3 separate regions of the Homo sapiens genome follow, and all the other regions are linked to region 2. Evidence: fine-mapped expression QTL. A gene starts in region 2. Each other region holds a variant in brackets. All regions are shown on one strand. Distances are from middle to middle.

What was found.
Region 1: its variant is fine-mapped to the expression of DPP9 in whole blood (TOPMed, PIP 0.98).
Region 3: its variant is fine-mapped to the expression of DPP9 in whole blood (TOPMed, PIP 0.99).

The regions. Positions count from the first base shown.
Region 1 is chr19:5,148,086-5,156,258 of GRCh38, reverse strand. It overlaps KDM4B (lysine demethylase 4B), which reads right to left. Exons shown (of 23, transcript NM_015015.3): 22 at 5,809-5,901; 23 at 2,661-4,924. The coding sequence ends at 4,748. Among named protein-coding and RNA genes, the nearest start is that of PTPRS-AS1, 26 kb to the left of the region's middle. RefSeq lists a silencer at 1,976-2,035 and enhancers at 1,793-2,293, 4,224-4,995. The variant C/T (reference allele first, on the strand shown) is at 4,591.
Region 2 is chr19:4,720,376-4,728,548 of GRCh38, reverse strand. It overlaps DPP9 (dipeptidyl peptidase 9), which reads left to right and starts at 4,707. Exons shown (of 22, transcript NM_139159.5): 1 at 4,707-4,875; 2 at 5,998-6,050. It overlaps TRG-TCC1-1 (tRNA-Gly (anticodon TCC) 1-1), which reads right to left and starts at 4,479; the gene lies at 4,408-4,479. TRV-CAC3-1 (tRNA-Val (anticodon CAC) 3-1) reads left to right here and starts at 3,842; the gene lies at 3,842-3,914. LOC105372250 (a long non-coding RNA gene) reads right to left here and starts at 5,669. Exons shown (of 3, transcript XR_936274.2): 1 at 5,563-5,669; 2 at 3,840-3,929; 3 at 2,962-3,414. RefSeq lists silencers at 3,787-3,986, 4,437-4,526, 4,757-4,906.
Region 3 is chr19:4,554,237-4,562,409 of GRCh38, reverse strand. It overlaps SEMA6B (semaphorin 6B), which reads left to right and starts at 2,726. Exons shown (of 17, transcript NM_032108.4): 1 at 2,726-2,880; 2 at 3,921-4,073; 3 at 4,261-4,384; 4 at 5,187-5,247; 5 at 5,397-5,459; 6 at 6,321-6,422; 7 at 6,846-6,936; 8 at 7,315-7,434; 9 at 7,934-8,022. The coding sequence starts at 3,953. RefSeq lists an enhancer at 5,379-5,673. The variant C/T (reference allele first, on the strand shown) is at 4,171.

The DNA of each region.
Region 1 (8,173 bases), 430 kb before region 2:
AGGGGTCGGAGGCTGAGTGTGTCAGGCTCTCCCCGACCCCAGCACTTGGGCAGCAGGTGGCCCAAGGGTAGAGGGCAGAGCACCCCCAGTGGGTCGGACAGATGGACAGATGAATCAAAGTCCCTGGTCAAAGCCTCCTTTTTCCACCCGCTCCTGCGGGTGGCAGCGGGGGCAGTTGGCTGCCCACTGTCCATCTAACTGGAAGCCTTTGAGAGCCAAGGTGGACCTGGGCACTGAGGGGCTGTCCCTATGGGAGAACATTTTGTTGCAGGCATAGAGAAAGGGTGGAGGCTGCCACCACCCACTTCTTCTAAGTCAGGGCTGAGCACATTCTTTCCCATAAAGGGCCAGATTCTAAATACATTGGGCTTTGCAGGCCAGGTGGGCTCTGCAGTGACTCTTCAGGTCTGCTGTTGTCGGGGCGCCAGCTGTCATATGTAAATGAATGGGCATGTCCATGTGCCAACAAAACTTTATTGACAAAAACAGGTGGCGGGCTGCATTTGGTCGGAGGGCTGTAGGTTGCCAGGCCTTGCCCTAGAAGGTGCCTGCTCTCAACACAATGTACCCACAGCCTGATTCTCTGATCTGCCGTCCCATCGGGGGGTCATATCTGTTTAAGAGTCCCTCTTTAATAAAAAGGGTGTCCACTGACACCCTTCTGGTGGTCTGTGACCGACCACCACTTACCCTCCATCTCTGACCCCGTTCTTGTCTTTCAGAGCATGCATTAAAGATGTATTTTTGTTTTTTTCTCCCTTTTCCTCAGCAGTGTCCCCAGAGCCTGGCACAGAGGTTGCATAAAAATATTGCAGCTGGAATAAATGAACCAAACTCAGGTGCTGATTACGGAGTCTCACACACTGCCCCGAGATACGAGACCTCGGCATCGGGGCACCCACCCCGGCCCGAGTGCAGACCTCATCGGCTCCGCACGGTGACACTTTTGGGGACCTATCCACTCATCTTTACTCTGCTCGGCAGACAGCAACAGCCTGTCCCAAATAGCCTTCCCGTTTTAGAGCGTTTTGGAGAACAATGGAAAGGACGCTGCAGGCACCACCTGCTCCTGCCACGGCCCCTCTGCCAGCTTGGGGAGGCCCAGGGACGCTGACCTCACAGGGCCTAGGGCGGGCGGGGGGGCACCCCAGAGGCTTTGGTTTCAGGCTGTGTCTGTCCCCGCACACAGGGAAGGCTTTCGAGATGGAGAAAAGAGGGACACAGTCTTTGTCGGGAAATCGCAGCAGGTGGAGCATCCAAGCCTCCTGTGGCCACGGGCTTCACCCCACCCTGGATCCCTCCTCCCCACCTGCAGCACACAGGGGAACTGAGTCCTGGTGGTGTTGAGAGGATGCTGGAGGCGAGAGGGCCCCAGAAAGGAGAGTCGGTGCTGGGGGCAGTAGGTGGATGAAGCTTTTTTGTCAAGGGCACCCTCTGTTCAGGACACAAGCCCTCGGCACAGCAGGCAGGTGGACACTCCTTCTGCAGAGGGAACGCCGGGGCCCAGGGAGGGATGGCCTGGCCGCGTCCCCCCGAGCCCTGGCTGCTGGGCCTGGGTTTCTCCGGGTGTCCCAGCCCCCGTCCCACCACAGACACCCAGGGCCCAGTCCTGGGTCCCACCCCACCTCCACCCACTCCCTGCAGGTGACTTCATCCTCTAGTTCCAACACCTGCCAGCTGACGGCCCCTGACCACCTGCCTTGGGGCGGCCTCCCCAGACCCAGCACCTTCACCTGGACGTCTGGTGTTCAAATCCAACCCCCTCCCAGCTCAACGCCTCCTTCCAGGGGCTCGGGTGATCTGCGAATCCTATTGGCTCTGCACTGAAAATGCATCCAGAATCCACCCACTTCTCACTACACCTGACCCCTGCCCTGGTCCCTAGCTTCTGCCCTTACCCCGTCTCCTCCCCACAGCAATCACCAGAGGGCGCCTGTGAGCACCTGAGTCAGGGCCCATCCCTCCCCTGCCCACACCCCTCCATGGCTCCCACCTCCCTCAGGGTCAAAGCCCAAGTCCTTCCCGAGACCCACAAGGGCCTGCACACCCTGCCTCCCCTCCTCCCCCTCTCCCCTGCCTCCCTCTGCTCCAGCCACAGGGGCCTCTTCATGTTCTTGCCGCACACCAGGCACAGGAGGGTCACCTCCCTGAGGGAGGCTCAGGTCTCCCGTGTCCCCTCTGCCGACTCCAGGCCTGGTGGGGCTGGGCACTGAGTGACCCAGGCCAGGACTGCTGGGTCCCAGTGGCCATCCAGGGCCGTGAGCCCCAGCGCCTAGCACGTCTGCCAGCCACCACCACCACAAGCAATGCTCTCGGGGCTCAGATGTAACCAGAACCGGATGGGGGACAGGGACAGGGCAGCTGCTGGCTGGGACGAGTGAGGCCAGGGCCAGGCCTCCAGAGAACTGAGGGGGAATCATGGGGTCCGCTGCCCCAGCCACCCAGCCTGGCCACAGCATGAGGGGCATGACAGCTGCCCCTGGGTGTGTGGGGGTGTGTTGGGGACCCTGGAGAGTGGGAGGGGAGGGACATCCAGCTCTGGAAGCAAACCTTCTCCCGGGAGAACGGGGCGCAGGCAGCCCCACCCCAGGGAGGCCCCAACATCAGTCCCCCTAGCACAGGCTCAGAAATGAAGACACTTGCCGGGGCATGGAACGGGGTTTCGCAGCGTTCATGAACCTTTAATTCATTATGAACCTAGAGGCAGGGACATTAGGCAAAAAATACAGCGTATCCTTCATCTCGGGTGGGGAAAAACCAGGGCACTGGGTTTTGCCGCGTCTTTGCACAGAGTAAGACACAGAGATACCTTCGTGGGGAGAGTGTGCAGCTCCGGCCTGCCCTTCTGTGGCCCATCTGCGCAGGCCGCCCAGGAGCCCACCAGGGGATGGGTGTGACCCCCAAGGGACAAGGGCAGCAGGGGCACCCGCCCGCTTCTTTACAATATAAATAGCATTTTCAAACAACATAAGAATACAGTGTCAGCGCCACGCCGGGCGAGGGCTGCGTGCAGAGGGACACCTCCACGTTTTGGCTGACACCCCCCAACCTCCCCGACCCCGGCCCTCTCCAGGGCAACCGCCCCCCTCCCCCACCAAGGAAATGAAAGGCTTGCTCCTGCGTAACACTCTCTCTGTTTTCCTTAGTCCTCTCTAGCCCGGGGACTGTTAGGACACTCTTTTATAATATAAACATTGCTTTTTTTTTTTTTTGGAGACAGGGTCTCGCTCTGTTGCCCAGGCTGGAGTGCAGTGGTGCAATCTGAGCTGACTGCAGCCTCAACCTCCTGGACTCAAGCAATCCTCCCACCACAGCCTCCCGAGTAGCTGGGACCACAGGTGCGCACCACCACACCTAGCTAATTTGTAAAAAATTTGTAGTGATGGGGTCTTGCTATATAGCCCAGGCTGGTCCCAAACTCCTGCCTCAGCCATTTTTTGTTTTTAATATAAGCAAATTATCTCCTCCATCCCTCCCTGGGGCAGGAGACAGCTAAGGTGGGGAAGGCTCCCCAGAGGGGTGCAGAGCTGGTGAGGGAGAGGCACCTGGAGAAGGCGCTTCCCAGCCTGGGCTGAAGGCCGTTTTTTCTCTATCAGCTCAACCCACTCCTAAGAAGCAGATTCCCCTCAGGTGACAGCAGCGTGGGTGGGTGGAGCGAGGACACCAGGCCTCGTCCCTGCCCGGAAGCAGGCGAAAGGGGCCCCGAAGGCCTGCCTCGGCCCTGTGTCCCCCGACCTGCTCAGGGTTGTACCCGAAGAGCTGGGAAGCTGTCCACACTCACTACCAACCAGAAGGGCCTGGGGGCCTCCCTCATCCTGAGCCATAGGAGGTGCAGGGGTGCTTTGTCTGCAAGGAAGCCTCTGGAACACCTGCGTTTCTCTCAGGTGAGAGAAACAAAGATAGACAAACCCCAGGAGAGAGTTTATTCTGCAAAGGTGGGCGCAGACGGAGGGAGGCCCCAGACCCCCGGGCTTCCCCTGGCCAGGTGCACAGGGGCGGCCACCAGAGAGCCTGGGCCTCCTCCCAGCAGGCACAGAGTGGGCACAGGCACTGGCACCAGACCATCAAAGCCCAGGAGCCGGGGTGAGGCGAGAGCGAGGCCGTGAGTGACCGGGCTGTGCCGAAACCGGGGCGTCCTGCCCCCCCCCCGAGGCTCACCCTCCAATTACCGGGTCTCTTTCCCTGCCTGGTCTGTAGCCAAATCATAATATTTTAAAACAACAACAAAAAAACAGCGAGATGCTCTGACCTCTCAGAGAATCCTGGTTCTGAGAAAAACAATGTGTTTGTTTTGTTTTGTTTTTCTTAAAGCCACAAATCTAGAAAACAACTTTGGGGATATTTTCCTTTGTTTTCCTTTTTTTCTTGCTTTTTTTTAAACAATATGTATTTATAGAAAGAGCCTCACAAAGGTGGTTTATGTACAGAAGTGACAATCTCAAAGGTTGCTCAGTAGGGCATTGCAGTAGCACCTTTTCGAGAAGAAGAGAGCTTACATGGTTTAAAATTCTGAGTAGTTGAGTGGGGTGCTCCCCTGGCCGGCCCCCGAGCCCGCCTGGCCCTGCTCCCTGAGTCTGGGGCCGCGTGCGG[C/T]GTCCCGCTGGCTCCTGTCGCCCTAGGGGGCACCCGCGGCTTGGAGGTGGCCTCTCGGGGGTCGGGGACACGAGGACAGGAATTCACAGCAAGCGAACGCCCGGGGCATGCCATGGCCTCCCCGCCGGGCTGAGGGTCGCCTGAGCGGCCAGCTGTCCTAGAAGGGGGCTCCGGGCCGGCCCTGCACCTGCAGGAGGCTCTCCACGAAGGCCACGTAGTCCTGGCTCCGCCCGGAGTCCTCCGTGGCAAGCGGGGTGCCCACACGCGGGCGCTTGGCGGCCTTGGCCTCCTCCCCCGAGAAGGCGGGCTCCTGCGGTGCCCCCGTGCTCAGTGACTGCGGGAGAGCGGAAGCACAGTGGTTAGCACGGTGGAGACACTCTGTGCGGCCCCAGCCACTGTCTATGGCCTCTGAGAGGAGCTGGCTGGACACAGAGCCCTGATTGCTGTGGGGGCTGCTCAGCAGGCTCCTGTTTTCGTGTTTGTAAACCCCTGATCCTGCCAGCAGAGGGGCCCTGCACTCGGCCCCAGCCTCTGGCCCCCTAGTGGGGTGGGCACCCTGGCTGGGGCTGGGACCGTCCATCTGGCAGCTCCCATCTGTTTTCCGAGGGACCCCTCTGCGGCTGAGCAGCTGTGGCCAGGACCAGGAACCTCCCCCACGGGCTCTGCCCCTCAACACCTCGCCTCTCGCCTCTCGATTAGAAAGAGAATAAAGGAAGCCCATGAGGGCTGGGGGAGCGAAAGCTGGAGCTGCCTCCGCTGCCTCCAGGACTCAGGCTCCCGTTTAATAAGGAAAAACCTCAGGAAAAGCTTTTTTAAGCCGACAACTGGGGTGCCCGTACTTCGCCTGTACCCCAAAACCTGTGATGGTTCAGAGGCCGCCCTGTGCAGGGTGGGGCAGCGCGGGTCCTGCAGGGCACAGGGGGCTGGGAGGGTCTGTTCTGCATTCGTGATAAGGGGAGGGGCGGGGCTTCTCCAACCCTCCCTCCCCACATTAACGGCATCGCCCAGGAGCTGCGGCACCAGGAGTCAAGGCAAAGGAAGGGTCTCCTGCCAGGAGCCCATGGACCAGCTGTGCTGGGGCGGCCGGGACCCCCTTCCAGCAGAGGTGCAAGAGGAGGGGGTGGTCCACGCCATTGGAAGACGCAGTCTGTGCCCTGCCTCGTCCCAGACGGGCTCCCTGAGTCACCCGGAGCCACCAGGCCAGCCTCGCGCACTCACCAGCCGAGAGCGGACCCTCTTGGGCAGCTCCTCCTCCAGGGTGAAGATGTCCCCACGCTTCACCGTCAGCTGGGACCCGTCCTCAAACTCCACCTGCAGGGGGATGTGGCTCTCAGGGGCCTGGCACTGCCAGGATGGCAGGTGCTCCAGGCAGGCCACGGCCTCAAGAGCTGGGAGGCCAGCCCCCTTGGGTGCATGGGGCCCGCTAGAGGCCACATGCAGCCAAGCTGAAGCTCATGTCCACCTCTGACACCGCCTGCAGCAAACAAGGATCAGGCTGAGGGTCCCGTACCACGGGGCAAGGATGACGGAGGACGGGACAGCCTGGGGCAGAGGCAGGGCCCCGCAGCTTCCACATGGAGACAGAACACTCACCCCTCACCTCCTCCCAGCTCAAAAGACATCTGTCTCCATGAAGACACAGCCCCAGGACAAGGTGACAGAGTCACTGGTGGACACAGAGCCAGGCAGGAGGCGCAGTGCCCTAACAGGGCCTGGGAGGCAGGGGAGGCCGGACAGGCGGACTCAGGGGCCTGAGCTCAGGAGCCCCCAACCAGAAGGTGAAGGACAGGGTCCCTGGCTTATGTGTGGCCCTCTGAAAACAGCTCAGTCACCTCTTCCCTTCAACTCAGAGAAAAATCACCCCCTTCCAGCCTCCCCAGCTGGTGCCTTGTTCCAGGTGGCAGATGCCTGACTGGTGAGGGGCACTGGGAGCACCCCGCTTCCTCCTCGTTAAGCTTGGTGCCAGCTCAGGCTCGCGGAGACTCTCTCAGGGGCCCTCTGGCAACACAACACTGTCCCATGAAGGGCGTGCCAGGGAGGGGCGTGTCTCCAGGCCCACCTCATAACTGCGATGGGCGCCGTGTTCCCAAGCCAGGAAAGGTGCTGGGGTCACTCCCTGGGCCTGACTGCCGTTCTGCTCCAGGGGGAGAAGGTTCCCATATCAGAGGGCTCGCTTTTCACATTTAAAAACTCAAAACAAGCCAGGCATGGTGGCATGTGCCTGTGGTCCCAGCTACCCAGGAGGCTGAGGTGGAGGCTGTAGTGAGCTCTAATTATGTCACTGCACTCCAGGCTGGGTGACAGATCAAGACCCCGTCTCAAAATGAACAAAATGCACACATAAGACTGTCACAGAAGCGTACAAAAGTCACACACTAAGACCATGACGGAAGTGTATAAAAGTCACACAGTAAGACCATCGCGGAAGTGTGTCTGGGGCTAGACGCCCCACGTAGTGTGCAGCGGGGGGGCCCGGGATCGCAGCACCTCCCTCTCCAAGGGAGCACAGACCCTGCCTTGGGGCAGCCAAGCCTGCCGGTCCCTGTGACTCCTCCAGGGATGGGTGGGGATGGAGACAGACGTAGGCCCTGGAGCAAGTGTCTGCTGTGGGTTCCACATGCCTCTTGGCCGGCGCAGGCGGCGGGAGAAGCAGGGCTGGGAGTGCCCAGTGTGGACTCTCAGATGGCCGGTTGCCTCTGGGCCGTGTCCTGGGACGACAGCACACATCTCTCGGGGATGTGTGGAGGAGCCTGCTGGGAACCAAGGACATGGGTGCCACCCTCTGCCCCGTCCTACCCATCTCATTTGTAGAGGAAAGCCACCGGGAGAAGGCCCCTTCCCAGCGTCTGTCCGGTGAGGAGAGTCTGGGTGAAGGAGTCCTAGTGTCGGAGCCCCAGCACCCCGGAAAGCGATTTCCACCCCCGGCGTGGCCAGGCTCCGCTTTGCCACGGGCAGCAGCGGGTTTTGGAGGCTCCGCTTTGCCAAGGGCAGCAGCGGGTTTTGGAGGCTCCGCTTTGCCACGGGCAGCAGCGGGTTTTAGAGCTCCCACTGCAGGAGTCCCAGGGCCCACCTGCTGCCTTTCCCCAGCTCCCCGGCCCCGACTCGGCCTCTCGGCTTCTGGCAGGCGTGGCACACAGTGATTCAGTCAGGCACAGAAGCAGCCTTGCCAGGAGGGGAAGGCGCGTTCTAGAAACTCAGTGGAAACTGGCTCAGGTTTCTGGGTCAGGAAGACTGCAGAGATCCGCCCCAGATTCTCAGGAGCACAGAACCGCCTAGGAGGATGGCGCTCACACTGCCGGGTCCAAGTGGGCTCCAGGGAAACTTCTGTGCCTGGGTCATTTGGGAACTGGGGGCTGACTGGAGACTCAGGCTGATTTCCTCCCAGTGGCCTCCCTGGAACGTGCTTTCACTATGAGTCTCCACAGGGCGAGTTCTGAAGGCGGCGTTTGCTTTTTAACATTTTGAGAAAACTGGATATACTTGCAGCTACAGGAAATCAGAGGCGTGCGCCTCGGCCCGGGCTCCCTGTGGTGACGTCTTGCCCGGCACGTCTCAGAAGCATCTCGAGGGGTCACGTGCGAGG
Region 2 (8,173 bases):
GAGGTTGAGGCAGGAGAATAGCTTGAACCCAGGTAGTGGAGGTTGTAGTGAGCAGAGATCGTGCCATTGCACTGCAGCCTCGGGGACAAGAGTGAGACTCCATCTAAAAAAAAATACACACACACAAAAAAGCCACTGGCTGGGCACGGTGGCTCACGCCTAGTAATCCCGGCACTTTGGGAGGCGGAGGCGGGTGGATCACGAGGTCAGGAGATCGAGACCATCCTGGCTAACACGGTGAAACCCCGTCTCTACTAAAAATACAAAAAATTAGCCAGGTGTGGTGGTGGGCACCTGTAGTCCCAGCTACTCAGGAGGCTGAGGCAGGAGAATGGCTTGAACCTGGGAGGCGGAGCTTGCAGTGAGCCGAGATGGCGCCACTGCACTCCAGCCTGGGCAACAGAGCGAGACTCCGTCTCTGTCTAAAAAAAAAAAAAAAAAAAAAAGCCAGAAAAGCACAATTATCATAGTGAGTTGTTGTTGTGTGTGTGTGTGTGTGTGTGTGTGTGTGTGTTTTGACAAGGTCTCACTCTACCACTCAGGCTGGAGTGCTTGTCATGATCATGGCTCACTGTAGTCTTGACCTCCTGGGCTCAAGCAATCCTCCCACCTCAGCCTTCCAAGTAGCTGGAACTACAGGTGCGCACAACCACACCCAGCTAGTTTTTATATTTTTTGTAGAGATGGGGTTTTGCTATGTTGCCCTTGCTAGAATACAGTCTTTTTTTTTTTTTTTTTTTTTTTGAGACAGAGGTCTTGCTTGTTGCCCAGGCTGGAGTGCAGTGGCGAGATCTCAGCTCACTGCAAGCTCTGCCTCCTGCATTCAAGCTGTTCTCCTGCCTGAGCCTTCCGAGTAGCTAGGATTACAGGCGTGTGCCACCACCCCCGGCTAATTTTGTATTTTTAGTAGAGATGGGTTTTAGCCATGTTGGCCAGGCTGGTCTCGAACTCCTGACCTCAGTGATCCGCCCGCCTTGGCCTCCCAAAATGCTGGGATTACAGGCGTGAGCCACCTCGCCCGGCCTAGAATACATTCTTAATGTTGTGAGTTTTAATATATCTACTTTTAATGTTTCAATATGGTTTCAACAGCATTCTGAGAGAAATAACCATTAAAATACATAAAATCAGGACAGGGATAGTGGCTCAGCCTTGTAATCCTAGCACTTTGGGAACCCAAGTCGGGAGGATTACTCGAGCGCAGGAGTTTGAGACCAGCTTGGGAGAGATAGCGAGACCCCATCTCTACTAAAAATTTTTTTAAAAATTAGCCAGGCATAGTGGCACCCACCTGTGGTCCCATCTACACGGGAGGCTTGCGGTGGGAGGATCCCTTGATCCCAGGAGGTCGAGGCTGCAGTGAGCTGTGATTGCACCACCGCACTCCAGCCTGGGTGACAGTGAGACCCTGTCTCAAAAACACCCAAAAACCCCTCAAAACACATAAAAACAGGCACAGAGAGGTACACATTTTAGACTCCAATAGAATTTGGCAAATCTCTACGAAAACTTGCCTCAATGGAAACTTTTGACAATTTGTTCATGATGGAGTTATTTACCAGTAATTATTTTATTTTTATTTGTTTAAATTTATTTATTTATTTATTTATTTATTTATTTATTTATTTAGAGACAGAGTCTCACTGTCGCCCAGTCTGGAGTGCAGTGGCGCGATCTCCACTCAGTGCAAGCTCCGCCTCCCGGGTTCATGCCATTCTCCTGCCTCAGCCTCCCGAGTAGCTGGGACTACAGGCGCCTGCTACCACGCCCGGCTAATTTTTTGTATTTTTAGTAGAGACGGAGTTTCACCGTGTTAGCCAGGATGGTCTCGATCTCCTGATCTCGTGATCCGCCCGTGTTGGCCTCCCAAAGTGCTGGGATTACAGGCGTGAGCCACCGCTCCCGGCCAACCAATAATTAAATTTTCTTTCTTTTTTTTTTTTTTTTGAGAGGGAGTCTCGCTCTGTCGCCCAGTCTGGAGTGCAGTGGCGCGATCTCGGCTCACTGCAAGCTCCGCCTCCCGGGTTCACGCCATTCTCCTGCCTCAGCCTCTCGAGTAGCTGGGACTAATTTTTTTGTATTTTTAGTACAGACGGGGTTTCACCATGTTAGCCAGGATGGTCTCGATCTCCTGACCTCGTGATCCGCCCTCCTCAGCCTCCCAAAGTGCTGGGATTACAGGCGTGAGCCACTGCGCCCGGCTAATTTTTAAAAGAATATTATGGTGGGGTGCAGTGGCTCACGCCTGTAATCCCAGCACTTTGGGAGGCGGAGGCGGGCGTATCACTTGAGCTCGGAAGTTCAAGACCAGCCTGGCCAACATGGTGGAATCCCATCTCTACGAAAAATACAAAAATTAGCCTGGCATAGTGGCTCATGTTTGTAATCCCAGCTACTAGGGAGGCTGAGGCACGAGAATAGCTTGAACCTGGGAGGTGGAGGTTGCAGTAAGTCAAGATTGTGCCACTGTACTCCAGCGACAACAGAGAGAGAAAAAAAGATGTATTGAAATATTATTTATCTTGATTATTGAGTTTTTTGGCACCACCTTAATTTTTGCACCTGGTGCCAGTGCCTTACAATGCTTTAGTCTCCTCACCCTAATCCCAGCCCCGCAGGAGTGAGGGTGTGCAGAATTTTACAGCAGTCTGATTCTAAATTCTTGCCATCATCTTCCCACCTCTTCTACTGTCTCTTTAAGAAAATAAAGAGGCCTGGCGTGGTGGCACATGCCTGTAATCCCAGCACTCTGGGAGACTCAGGCGGGCGGATCTCTTGAGGTCAGGAGTTCGAGACCAGCCATGACCAATATGGCGAAACTCCATCTTTAGTAAAAATACAAAATATAGTCAGGCGTGGTGGCGGGTGCCTGTAATCCCCGCTACTTGGGAGGCTGAGGCAGGAGAATCGCTTGAATCCGGGAGGCGGAGGTTGTAGTGAGCTGAGATTGCGCTACTACATTCTAGCCTGGGCAACAGGAGCAAAACTCCATCGGAAGGTAAACACATACACACACAGTTTTTCTTTTCAGAAAGCTCTTTTACAGTGTAGTTGGGGTCGGGCGCGGTGGCTCATGCCTGTAATCCCAGTACTTTGGGAGGCTGCAGGCGGGCGAATCACGTTGAGGTCAGGAGCTGGAAAGCAGCCTGGGCAACATAGTGCAGGCCCTCTAGTCTCTACAAAAAATACAAAAGTTAGCTGGGAGTGGTTGCACACGCCTGTAGTCCCAGCTATAAGGCACCGTCTCTACAAACGCATTTTTTAAAATTCAGCCAGGCGTGGTGGTCCACACCTGTGGTCCAAGCTACCCAGGAGGCTGAGGTGGGAGGATCGCTTGAGCCCAGGAGGTGGAGGCTGCAGGGAGGGATGATCGTACCACTGCACTCGAGCCTAGGCGACAGAACGAGACTCTCTCTAAAAAATACAAAAAACAAAACACACAAAAAAGTAGTTTGATCTAAAGCAAAATGGTGAATATCTGCAGAAACTAATGTGATATCAAGTATAGATTGATATCTATGAGATGAAAAGCTTCATTTGACCCCGGATGGGTTTGTGGGCCGTTTGACGTGCATTGTTTTAATGGAAGGTGGATTTATGATAAAGTGATAAACATGTGTGTGGGTGGGTGGGTGTGTTGGAAAGGGTGTTTATTGGATTTCTTTTTGTCTTCCTTATTTTCCTTCTTTCGGTCTCTACTGTATCAAATACAATAACAGATATTCAGGAAGAGCGGATATTGCTTTAGCTGACTGTAGCCAGTGTTTCTTTGGTGGGACAACGCAACTATCACTGCAACATTATCTCTATAGGAGAATTTAAAGAACCCTGACGCCTACCGGTTTCCGTAGTGTAGCGGTTATCACATTCGCCTCACACGCGAAAGGTCCCCGGTTCGATCCCGGGCGGAAACAGGTCAGCTGTTTTTCCTAACCGGAGAGTAATACTATTTGAAATTCACCGAAAGAACGATTCTAGTCCCATTCTTTCTCTTCCGCCTTCCTCCTGCCTTTTAGACATTTTTATGGGATTTAAAAAAATTTTCCGTGATTGATGGCTCACGCCTGTAATCCCAGCACTTTGAAAGGCCGAAGAGGGCGGATCACCTGAAGTCAGAGTTCGAGACCAGCCTGGCCAAAATGGTGAACCGCCCCCCCCCCCCCACCCCGCCCCACCCCGCCCCACCCCACCCCATCTCTACTAAAAATACAAAAATTAGATGGGCGTGGTGGCGTGCGCTTGTAATCACAGCTACTTGGGAGGCTGAGGCAGGAGAATCGTTTGAACCTGGGAGGTGGTGGTTGCAGTGAGCGGAGATCACGCCACTGCACTCCAGCCTGGGGGACCGAGCGAGACTCCGTCTCAAAACTAAAATGAAAATTTCAAACTCGCAAAAGTGGTACCGCATGCGTTGGCCGGGAATCGAACCCGGGTCAACTGCTTGGAAGGCAGCTATGCTAACCACTATACCACCAACGCCCTGATAGGTAGCATCCTCTCCGGATATCCTTAATAGTGGGGGATCATGGGTTTGACTGAGTGATACCAAGTCACAGGGGGGTGTCTCTCCCTAACCCACCGGAAGATGTCGTTCATGGGGCGTTACGCACCTTAGGCCGCCGCGCCGCGGGCTCCCCCCCAAGCGCCGCGGACGCCTTGGTACGTGCCTGGTGGTGTCCAATCCCAGGCCGCCGCCTGGGTCGCTCAACTTCCGGGTCAAAGGTGCCTGAGCCGGCGGGTCCCCTGTGTCCGCCGCGGCTGTCGTCCCCCGCTCCCGCCACTTCCGGGGTCGCAGTCCCGGGCATGGAGCCGCGACCGTGAGGCGCCGCTGGACCCGGGACGACCTGCCCAGTCCGGCCGCCGCCCCACGTCCCGGTGAGCAGCGCCCGCGCGCCTCGTCCCGCCCCGGCCGCGACCCTGAACCCGCCATTGACCGGCCCCGCCTCGGCCCTGACCCTGCCCTCGCCATCGCCTGGCCTCCCCGCACCCCGGAGCCTCCATGCACCCGTCTGTGGGTCCCTCCGGCCCCCTGCCTCGTTTCCTCTCCGCCCCAGGCCCTCCTCCACCTTCTTTCCCTCCCCGATTCCTGCGCTGGCCAGGCCACCTCCCAGTTTCTCCCCTTCCCTGATGGGCTTCCCCACCCATCCCGTTGCTGCCCAGGCCACCAGGCTCTGACCCCTTCCGGAGGTGGCCGCACCCAAGAACGTCCTCGTAGCTGCAGACCTTGACACCCTCTCCCCTTTCGTGCAGGCTCTGGAGGTCCCGATCTCCTCCCTCTCCCCATGCAAATGCTGTATATGCACAGAGGCCACCTCCCTCGACCTGCATCCTGTCCTCACTCCTTTACCACTTCCTCCAACCTTCGCCCCGAGGCTTGGTCTCCCCAATCCAGTCCTGATCCTCAACCCTACTTGATCCCTCTATTAAGGGTATCCAGAGACTCTTTTTCCTGCCGAGGCGTTGGTGGTGTAGTGGTTAGCATAGCTGTCTTCCAAGGGTCCAGCCCACAGGGTTCAGCCCCCTTCTCTCAGCCTCCCTTCTCAGGCCTGTCCAACCGCCTACCTTCTTCCCACACAGCCTTAGGCCAGCCCTGACACTTCCCTGTTCACGCTGCCTCTGAGCCATCAAAAGTGGTCTATTCCCTTGGCCCCCACCCCCTGGTCTTCCCCAGGGGCCCCAGGAGGAAGTCACTTGCCTCCCAGGCAAGAACCAACCTGCTTTCGAGGAGCTGGGACTAAAGCCCAGGGGGTGTGGACCGTAGGCACCAATCCCTGCATTCCTCTGCTGGGTCCCAGGGGAATCGGGGCCCGTGGGATGGCTTCTCTCCCAGATTCTGTCCAGGGCATGCAGACAGTGCTGCAGGGCTTCAAGGCAGAGCTAGAATCTAGCCAGGTAGAATCGGGCCTGACAGTCTGCAGCTCCTGAGTGGGGGAGGCTGAACGGCTGGCCGGTGCTTCCATTAACCTGCCACATTCATGACATGTTTATCCTATAAAGGTCTGTGTCCCACGCCTGCAGCTGGAATGGAGGCTCTCTGGACCCTTTAGAAGGTCAGTTGTGCTGGGGTTTGGCAGCCAGGAAGGCTGGGGTGTGGGCTGGTGGGATTCCTTTGCCTGCTCTAGAATATAGACATGGGCAGGAAATGGTTTTCTATGGCCCTGGATGGTTGTCCTCCGCAGGGCAGTGGCTGCAGTTTTTTGTGCGCCTGCTGGAGGCTTTTCTTTCCACCCCTGTCCCCCTCTAGCTGCCCCTGGAAGGAGCTTTTTGAAGGCTTTGAGGAGAGGAAGGGGAGAGTGCTGATTTCAGCAGGATTTGGTGGAGGGGTGCCTGGATCCACCTACACTGCCTGACCCGGTCAGTAAATGGTGTGGATTCTGGCCCTGAAAGGACTTTAGTTTGAGTCTCCCCCTTCCTGTGGTTTTGAGTATCTTGTTTAGTTGACAATGCTAGCTGTCATTTAGTTTGTGCTACATCAGACACTGTGTTAAAAGCTGTATGTGTGCAGTCTCATTCAATTCCCTTGGTGGCCCCAGGCGTAGATACTGTCATACCATGTTCTCGCTGGGGAAGTGGAAGCTCAGAGAGGTTCAGCGACTTCCCCAGAAGTGGCAGAGTCAGGATTTGAACCTTTCTCTCTGAGACCAGAGCCCACGCTTTTCACCACTGGACTGAGAGTATGGCCAGTGATTTTTCGTGGTGACTTTATGCTTAACCTCTTCCCTTAAAATCTCAGTCCTGTCCCCATGTGCTTCCCTCTCTTCTTTTGTTTTTGAGACAGAACCTCGCTCTGTCACCCCTGGAGTGCAATGGCACAATCTTAGCTCACTGCAACCTCCGCCTTCTGAGTTCAAGCAATTCTTCTGTCTCAGCCTCCTGAGTAGCTGGGATTACAGGCTTGCACCACCACAGCTGGCTAATTTTTGTATTTTTAGTAGAGCTGGAGTTTCACCATGTTGGCCAGGCTGGTCTCGAACTCCAGACCTCAGGTGATCTGCCCGCCTCAGCCCCCCAAAGTGCTGGGATTAAAGGCGTGAGCCACTGTACCCAGCTGGCCCTCTCTTCTTTAAGCCTTTGGGCAACTGCGCATCATGGGACCTGGCTTGTCTGAGAAGGTAGTTGGGCACCAACCAAACAAGGGGCCCCTTTGACTTTAGACGGCATCCAAGAAAGCACAGTAGCTCATTCATTCAACCTGAAATGTTTGTTGAGGACCAGGCATGGTCTGGGCTCAGGCAATCTGTTGGGACCAGGATAGATGTGGCCTGCCCTGTGGAACTGATATTCCCGTGAGGAGTGCCCCCTTACCCACAGCAGGGTTTCTCAGCTTTGCCACTGATATTTAGGGTTGGGTCATTCTTGGCAGAGGAGTGGGAGGGGGGCTGTTCTGTCCACTGTAAGGGGTTGAGCAGCATCGCTGGCCTCCACTGGCCACATGCCTCCCCTCACCGTCCCAGTCGTCATAACCAAAAATGTCCCCTGGGGGGGCCGGTTATCCCCAGGTGAGACCCCTGGGTTAGGGGATTCCATGGATCCCCAAGAGACTGCGTCCCATGATCCTCTGCCCTACTAAGGTCCCAGGAGGCTGCACACATTGAAATCCTCACCCTGAGTGGGGAGGGAGAAAGGAGGTGAATCCCAGGAGCTGGGGGTCCCCCTCGTTTAGAATGCTTGTTCCATGGGAAGTTTATTCCAGTATTAATATGAGCGTAGGCGTTGAACTCAAGTTTCTCCCCAAGTAATGGATGCAGGGGTCTCCGGCTTGGCATTGCTGACATTTGAGGTGGGATCCTTCTCTGAGGTGGGTTATCCTGGGCACTGTGGGGTGCTAAGCAGCATCTCTGGGCTCCACCCACTCCATGCCAGGGTCACCCCCGAGTTGTGACAGCCACACATGTCTCCAGACATTGTCCAGTGTCCCCTGAGGGGCCAAATCGCCCCCAGTTGAGAACCACTCTCCCTGGGGAAGGGGACAACTGGAATTATGGTCCAGGCCATTGTATCAGCGTCTGGGTGTGGTGATGGGGGTCGCCAGGTAGCATCTTCAGATGGGGTGCTCAGGAAAGACCTCTGAAGAGGTGGTATCAGGAGCCACAGGGCAAGAAAGAGCAAGTCATATCAAAAGCAGGAACTGGCATTTCAGGCCACGGGGTGCGTCGTGCAGAAGCTGTGTGCT
Region 3 (8,173 bases), 170 kb after region 2:
TGGGAGACAGAGCGATATTGTCTCAAAACAAGAAAAAAAAAAAAAGGGGAAGGAAACCCTGACACAGGTCACAGTGTGGATGCATCTTGAGGCAATCCCGCTCAGTGAGAGAGCCAGACACGCAAGGACAAACACTGTGTGACCCACTCCTAGGAAGTCCCTAGAGTCATCAGGTTCACTGAGACAGTAGGATGGGAGGTGCCAGGGGCTGGGGAGGGGGGTGAGGAGTGAGTGTTTCATGGGGACAGAATTTCAGTTTGGGAAGTCGAGAAAGTTCTGGAGATGGTGGTGGTGATGGGTGCACAATTATGTGGATGTTCTTAATGCTAGTGAACTGTGTGTACTTAAAAACAGTTAAGGGCCCACCGGGCACCGTGGCTCACAACTGTAATCCCAGCACTTTGGGAGGCCGAGGCGGGTGGATCACCTGAGGTCAGGAGTTCAAGACCAGCCTGGCCAATATGGTGAAACCTTATCCCTACTAAAAATACAAAAATTGGCCGGGGGCAGTGGCTCATGCCTGTAATCCCAGCACTTTGGGAGGCCGAGGTGGGTGGATCACCTGAGGTCAGGAGTTCAAAACCAGCCTGGCCAATATGGTGAAACCTTATCCCTACTAAAAATACAAAAATTAGCCGGGTATGGTGGCGGGCACTTGTGATCCCAGCTACTTGGGAGGCTGAGACAGGAGAATTGCTTGAACCCGGGAAGCTGAGGTTGCAGTGAGCCGAGATCACGCCATTGCACTCCAGCCTGGGCGACAGAGCAGGACTCTTGTCTCCAAAAAAAAAAAAAAAAAAAAAAAAGAGCACTCACCCCTTGGGGGTGCTGTGAAGATTAAATGAGTTAATTTAAGTACTTATGATAATGCCTGGCACCTAGCAAGTGCTTTATGTTTGCTAGGTGTTTTTTTGTCGTTGTTTTAATTTAAATTAATTTTATTTTTTTTGAGATAGGGTCTCACTCGGTCGCCCAGACTGGAGTACAGTGGACCAATTATAACTCATTGCATTCTTGAACTCCTGGGCTCAAGCAATCATCCTGCTTCAGCCTCACAAGTAGCTGGGACTACAGGCACGTGCCACCATGCCTGGTTAATTTTTTATGTTCTGTAGAGATTATGGGGGCGTGTCTCGCTATGTTGCCCAGGCTGGTCTCAAACTCCTGAGCTCAAGTGATCCTCTTGCCTTGGCCTCACAAAGTGCTTTACAAAATTAATACAAAAATTAACCGGGCGTGGCAGTGCACACCTGTAATCCCAGCTTTTCAGGAGGCTGAGACACGAGAATTGCTTGAACCTGGGAGGTGGAGGTTGCAGTGAGCCGAGATCATACCACTGCATCGCAGCCTGGGTGACAGAGTGAGACTCTGTCCACCTTCCCCTGCGTCCCCCACCCCCGGCAAAAAAAAAAGTCAGGCTTGGTGGTGCACACCTATGGTCCTAGCTACTCGGGAGGTTGAGGTAGGAGGATTGCTTGAGCCTGGAAGTTCAAGGCTGCAGTGAGTGGTGATTGTGCCACCGTACTCCAGCCTGGGCAACAGAGCCAGACCCTGTCTCTTAATGTTTAAAGAAATAGTTTCTAGAATTAAATATTATTCTGATAAAACACAAGATGAAAGACACAGCATGTCATACCCATTAGGATGGCGACTGTCAAAAAACCAAAAGGTGGCCGAGCGTGGTGGCTCACACCTGTAATCCTCGCACTTTGAGAGGGCAAGGCGAGTGGATCACCTGAGGTCAGGAGTTCGAGACCAGCCTGGCCAACATGGTGAAACCCCATCTGTACTAAAAATACAAAAATTAGCTGGGCGTGGTGGCACGTGGCTGTGGTCTCAGGTACTTGGGAAGTTGAGGCGGGAGGATCGCTTGAGCCTGGGAGGCAGAGATTGCTGTGAACCAAGATCATGCCACTGCACTCCAGCCTGGGTGACAGAGCGAGACTCCATCTCAAAAAAATAATAAGAATGAAGGAGGCTGGGCATGGTGGCTCACACCTGTAATCCCAGCAGTTTGGGAGGCCGAGGTGGGTGGATAGCATGAGGTCAGGAGTTCAAAACCAGTTTGACCAACATGGTGAAACGCCATGTGTACTAAAAATACAAAAAAATTTAGCCGGGCATGGTGGCATGCACCTGGAGTCCCAGCTACCTGGGAGGCTGAGAAGAATCGCTTGAACCCGGGAGGGGGAGGTTGCAGTGAGCTGAGATGGCACCACTGCACTCCAGCCTGGGCGACAGAGCAAGACTCTGTCTCAAATAATAATACTACTAATAATAGTTAAATGAAAATGGTTAAGATGACAGCTTTTATGTTATATATATTTTAGCCATTTTTTTTTAAAGGCACAGGGCAGACAGGGCTCTTAGTTAGGTTCTGGGGTAGGGGGCTAGAAAGGCCCGTGGCATGAGGGGAGGGTAGGCCGAAGTGGGGTCTGAGGTCAGGGGCCTTGAATCCCAGGGAGAGGCTGGGGCCTGGACTCAGGGGTCCCTGGGAGCCACAGGAGGCTGTAGAGCAGGGGAGGAGCCAGGGAAGGAAATTCTGAAGGAAACAGGGCCGTGCCCTGAACACACGTGGAATCCGGGTGTTCGCTGAGTCACAAATCCTGGAAGCTCAGGGTCGTGAAGAGGAAGTCCAGCCGCGCTATGCGAGGTCTTCCTGTTTTTGGAGGGGGCAGGCACCCCAGGGCCGATTGTCGCGAATCACCTTCACCTCTGGGGGCTCAGAATCCCTGAGCCAGAAGGCCAGGGCAGGGCTGGGGGATACCCCTGCTGCTCAGACAGGAAAATGGGCTCGGAGCTTGCCCAATACTTCCCAGAAGGACGAGGCTGCTGAACTTCTCATTCGGGGCTCCGGGACCTGGACTGTACCCCTTTCTGGTAGGGGGTGCTCTGAACTGGGACCTTCAGCATGGAGGGCGGGGGTTCAGAGGGTGAATTCCGCTGCTATGTCATTACCTGGATGGGAGAGTGTCTCCACTCCACACACCTAGAAGTTTCTGCAAAGTTACCTTGAATGGGAGTGGGAAGCAGTCCCCCGTGAGAGGTAGTGAGGTGCCTGTCATGGAGGTGTGCAAGCGGAGAATGAAAAGGCTGGATTTGGGAAGGAGGTCAGATCTACCAGGGTCACAGAGGCCCTTGGCATGGGGAATATTCTGTGATTCTGTGGTTATGTAGTACTGTCATTCCCAGCTTGTGGCTTTTTTTTTTTTTTTTTGGATGGAGTCTTGCTCTGTTGCCCAGGCTGGAGTGCAGTGGTGCGATCTTGGCTCACTGCAACCTCCACCTCCTGGGTTCAAGGGATTCTCCTGCCTCAGCTCTCCAGTAGCAGGGATTACGGGCACAGGCCACCATACCTGGCTAATTTTTGTATTTTTTTGTAGAGACAGGGTTTCGCTATGTTAGGCAGGCCGGTCTTGAACTCCTGACCTCAGATGATCCTCCCATCTCGGCCTCCCAAAATGTTGGGATTACAGGCGTGAGCCACCACACACAGCCAGCTTGTGGCTTATAAAATTCCAAGAGCCTTTGACTCTTTTTTTTTTTAGCCTTTGAGTTTAATATTTTTGTGTTTTAATTCTAAGTATTTTTATGCATGTATTTTGCGATTGCATTTTTAAATATATGTTTTAGGATATTTGTATCTATTATTATAATAATTATTATTAGTTTTAAATTACCGAATGCAGTTTTGTTTGAAGTCGTTTCCTGGGCTTTCACGCACACGTGGCCATAAAGTTGTTCTGATAATTAAATCAGTGCTGTGTATTATTATTATTATTGCCATTATTGTTTTTATTAATTATTATCCCCGTGAGGAATTTTTCTGGGATTTGAAGGAGCGTCTGCTGCTCTCGCCCGCCGTCTTGTGGCCACGAGCGGGACTGCAGGCCGCTCACCTCGCCGCCCCTTGCCCGCAGGCGTCACCTCCTCCTGTCGCCTGGCCCTCGCCATGCAGACCCCGCGAGCGTCCCCTCCCCGCCCGGCCCTGCTGCTTCTGCTGCTGCTACTGGGGGGCGCCCACGGCCTCTTTCCTGAGGAGCCGCCGCCGCTTAGCGTGGCCCCCAGGGACTGTGAGTCTGGGGGTGTCTTTGGGCGGGGGTGGAGTCCCGTGGGAGTATCTGGGTTCCCAGTTGGGTCTGCTGCCCCCACTGGGGGACTCAAGCAGTC[C/T]AGGAGCCACCCCTAGAAGGGGCATGACCTCAGGCCACCCTCTCTTCACCCCCAGCCCTTGCTCACACCCCTCTCCACCCCCTCACTCAGACCTGAACCACTATCCCGTGTTTGTGGGCAGCGGGCCCGGACGCCTGACCCCCGCAGAAGGTGCTGACGACCTCAACATCCAGCGAGTCCTGCGGGTCAACAGGACGCTGTTCATTGGGGACAGGTATTGCTGGGGACAGCAAGGAGGCCTGTGTGACGAGCAGAATGAGCGAGGGGGAGAGAGAGAGGAGGCGAGGGCAGGGAGGGGATGGAGCAGGTCGTGCAGGGCCTGTTGGGCCATTGGGAGGACTTAGGCTTTGACCCGGAGGAAGGTGGGAGCCACGGAGGGTTTTAGGTAGGGGAAGGACTGGACCTGACTCAGGTGCTCACACGCGCCCGCCCTCTGGTGGCTGCTTCTGGGAGGGGGCGAGAATGGAATCCAGGGGACCAGGGTGGAGGGGACTGGGCTGTCCAGGCTGGCTATGATTGAGGCTGGACCAGGTGGAAGCTGTCGTGGGGAGAAGCAAGTGTGAGATTACGGGGCTTCTAGGGATGGGCTTCCCAGGAAGGAGAGAGACCGGACAGATCAAATGCTTTGGAGAGGATGAGGAGGATGCGGAAGTGACCACTGGGCTTAACTACACGAGGTCACCAATGACGTTGAGCAGGGCGGCTTCCTCGGCAAGGGTGTGAGGGGAGAGAGCCTGGTGGGCGCCTGGGAGGCGCCGAGTGGGGCACCTGACCTAAGGCCATGGGACATGGTGTTGGGGGCAGTCCGTGGGGCGTGCCGGGCAGGAGGTGGAGTGCAGGATATGAAGGCCTGCTGGGGCCCTTGGGGGGGTGTGGTCGGCGCTAGAGTTGCTCGTGTCAGAGGCATTGGCATGGCCCTGCATGCCCCCGTGTGCACACCACATTGGCAGTGGGAAGGATGGAACGGGAGAGGGTGGCGGAGCCCCCAGTTCTCACTAACTATGCCCCTCCCCCAGGGACAACCTCTACCGCGTAGAGCTGGAGCCCCCCACGTCCACGGAGCTGCGGTACCAGAGGGTGAGGAAGGGGTGCAGGTGGGAGTGGAGGGGTAGGGCCAGGGGGACGCGGCACTGCGCCGGGGAGCTGGGTGGATTCGGCCCAGCACGGCGGGGTCACTCAGGGCTGCTGGGACCCGTTACCCCCTCACCAGCTCTCTCTGTCTGCAGAAGCTGACCTGGAGATCTAACCCCAGCGACATAAACGTGTGTCGGATGAAGGGCAAACAGGAGGTGAGTTGGCCCTGGCTCGGTCCCGGCCCCTGCGAATCAGCCCTGGCATTACCCATGCCCCGCCCCAATCAGACCAGGCCACGCCCACCCCGCCAGCCCTGGCCACGCCCCAACCCACCCCCAATCAGCCCTGGCCCCGCCCAACTGCCAGCCCTGGCCACACCCCCAAACAGCCATGGCCACGTCCACGTCCCCACCCAATTGGTCCTAGCCCGGCCTCCAGCCTAGCCACAATTATCCATAACCACGCCCCAAATAGTTCTGGCTATGCCCACACTTCTGCCCCTGTCAGTCCTACCACCACCCCCAGCCTCGTTCCAACAAGCCCAGGCCATGTTCACACGCCACCCAATAGCTCACTCCCCACCCAATCGATCAGGTCCCCATCCCGACCCCTCCCCTATCAGTCCTGCCGCCCCCCACGCCCCCGGCCCGCCCCAATAAGCCCAGGCCACGCCCACCCCACCAGCTCTGGCCACGCTCCCAACTTGGCCCCAATCAGCTATAACCGTGCCCACCACGCCCCAGTTAGTTCTGGTCACGACCATGCCCCACCCCAATCGGCCGTGACCACACCCAGGGCGGATCCTTCTCCTCCATCCCAGGTTAGGACTCTGCTATTGCCATGGTTATGCCCACAGTCTGACAATGCCCACCATCCTGGCCTTGCCTGCGTTGCTGATACAAAGTGTTTCCCTGTCTGGGTCGCACCGTGTCCCCAGCCAGTCCTAGGTTCAGCCCCTGCCTTGGCCATGCCCACAACAGACCGGCCCTCCACCCACACAACTCAGGTTCTGGCCACGCCCATCACCATGACCACGCCCACATCGCGCTCCCCGCTTCCTCCTGTCCCCACCTCAGGGCGAGTGTCGAAACTTCGTAAAGGTGCTGCTCCTTCGGGACGAGTCCACGCTCTTTGTGTGCGGTTCCAACGCCTTCAACCCGGTGTGCGCCAACTACAGCGTGAGTCTTCAGACTCCCTGCGCCCCAGGTCCAACCTCCAGGCCTCTGCTCGCCCGACCTCCGCTGGCCATGGCTTTTCCCCAGGCCGTGTCACCTCCTCCAGGAAGCCTTCCTGGATATACTCTCCCTGCCTCCTCCCCCTGAGCTCAAGAGGAGTCAGCGCTGTCCAAACGAGGCCTGTACAGGGGGCCGGGGAAGCCGTAGCTACTTAGGTAATGAGCCAGTTACAGGTCTAACTAGGCATTGACTCTTAAACCCATTTACAGATCAGTAAACTGAGGCCCTGAGAGGTTAAGTGAGTGGCCAAGGTCACACAGTAATCCGTGGTGGATCAGGATTCCCCCTGGAGTGGGGGGCTGAGGGAGCCAGGGGCTGCTAGGTGGGGTCAGGAGATCTGTCACTCAGGCCCCATGGTCCCTGCAGATAGACACCCTGCAGCCCGTCGGAGACAACATCAGCGGTATGGCCCGCTGCCCGTACGACCCCAAGCACGCCAATGTTGCCCTCTTCTCTGGTAAGTACCCCCCCAACCTCCATCTGATCAGCCCCAGCCACAGGCAAGACCTGGCATTTTCTACTCCAGCGTCTGGGTTGTTTAGAAGGCAGCTGGACGACCACTTGTCCCAGCTGTGACATGGGCAGACTCTCAGCCCAGGTTTGGGGCTCAGCTGGGATTGAGGCTCAGCGGGATTTGGGGCTTAGCCGGGGTCAGGGGCTCAGTTAAGGTCAGGGCTTGGATGGAGGTGGGGCTTGGATGGGATCAGGGCTCAGCCTGGAGACAGGGGCTCCCCTAGGCTCAGGACTCAGTCTCAGAAAATCGAGTTTCGACCCACCCAGCCCCTGGCCTCTGCGGTCTCATCTCTTGCCTGCCTTCCCCACCCACCCCATCCAGACGGGATGCTCTTCACAGCTACTGTTACCGACTTCCTAGCCATTGATGCTGTCATCTACCGCAGCCTCGGGGACAGGCCCACCCTGCGCACCGTGAAACATGACTCCAAGTGGTTCAAAGGTGAGACCAGGAAGGGCAGTGGGCCCAGACCTGGCAGGGCCCAGAACCTGACATTCATCAAATCTCCCCACCAGAATAAGAGTCCCAGAGGAGCTTGGTGGAGAGATTTCCACCACATCTTTGGAATCTGTTGGCCTTTTTGAAGACTAGAAAGCTAGAGGAACAAGTTTAGTTGGATCTAAAGTAGAACCCGCTGGAAGTGGGTGGCTTAGAAGCCCAAAATGGAACCACAGAAAAGATATAGCAGGACTCAGCTCTTCAACACATGAGGGAGGAAGATAACAAAAAATAGTTGATGTTGCCATTTGCAGCAAGAGACACAGCGATTTTAGGCTTCTGACCTCCCTTCCCCTGCAAAATACCAAACTTTGAGTCTGTTTCATATTGTCTGGGTAACCAGCCTATGTCCCCCCTTCACCATAAAAGCCAGTGAGTTCTTAGCCCCAGAAACCCCCTTTGTCATGTCAGGGGCTGAGTTCTGACCCCTCCTGTCCTGCAGAGCCTTACTTTGTCCATGCGGTGGAGTGGGGCAGCCATGTCTACTTCTTCTTCCGGGAGATTGCGATGGAGTTTAACTACCTGGAGAAGGTGAGGCCGGTGCAGTGGGGCATGAAGTTGAGAGGCTCTGATCATGCGAAGTGAGGGGGCAGAGGTGGATCCATGAATCCCTGCATGGGGTGAGAGGGTCCTGCCCTCCATTTCTGGTCCCCAGGGCCTCCTTTCCAGCCATGATCAGGCC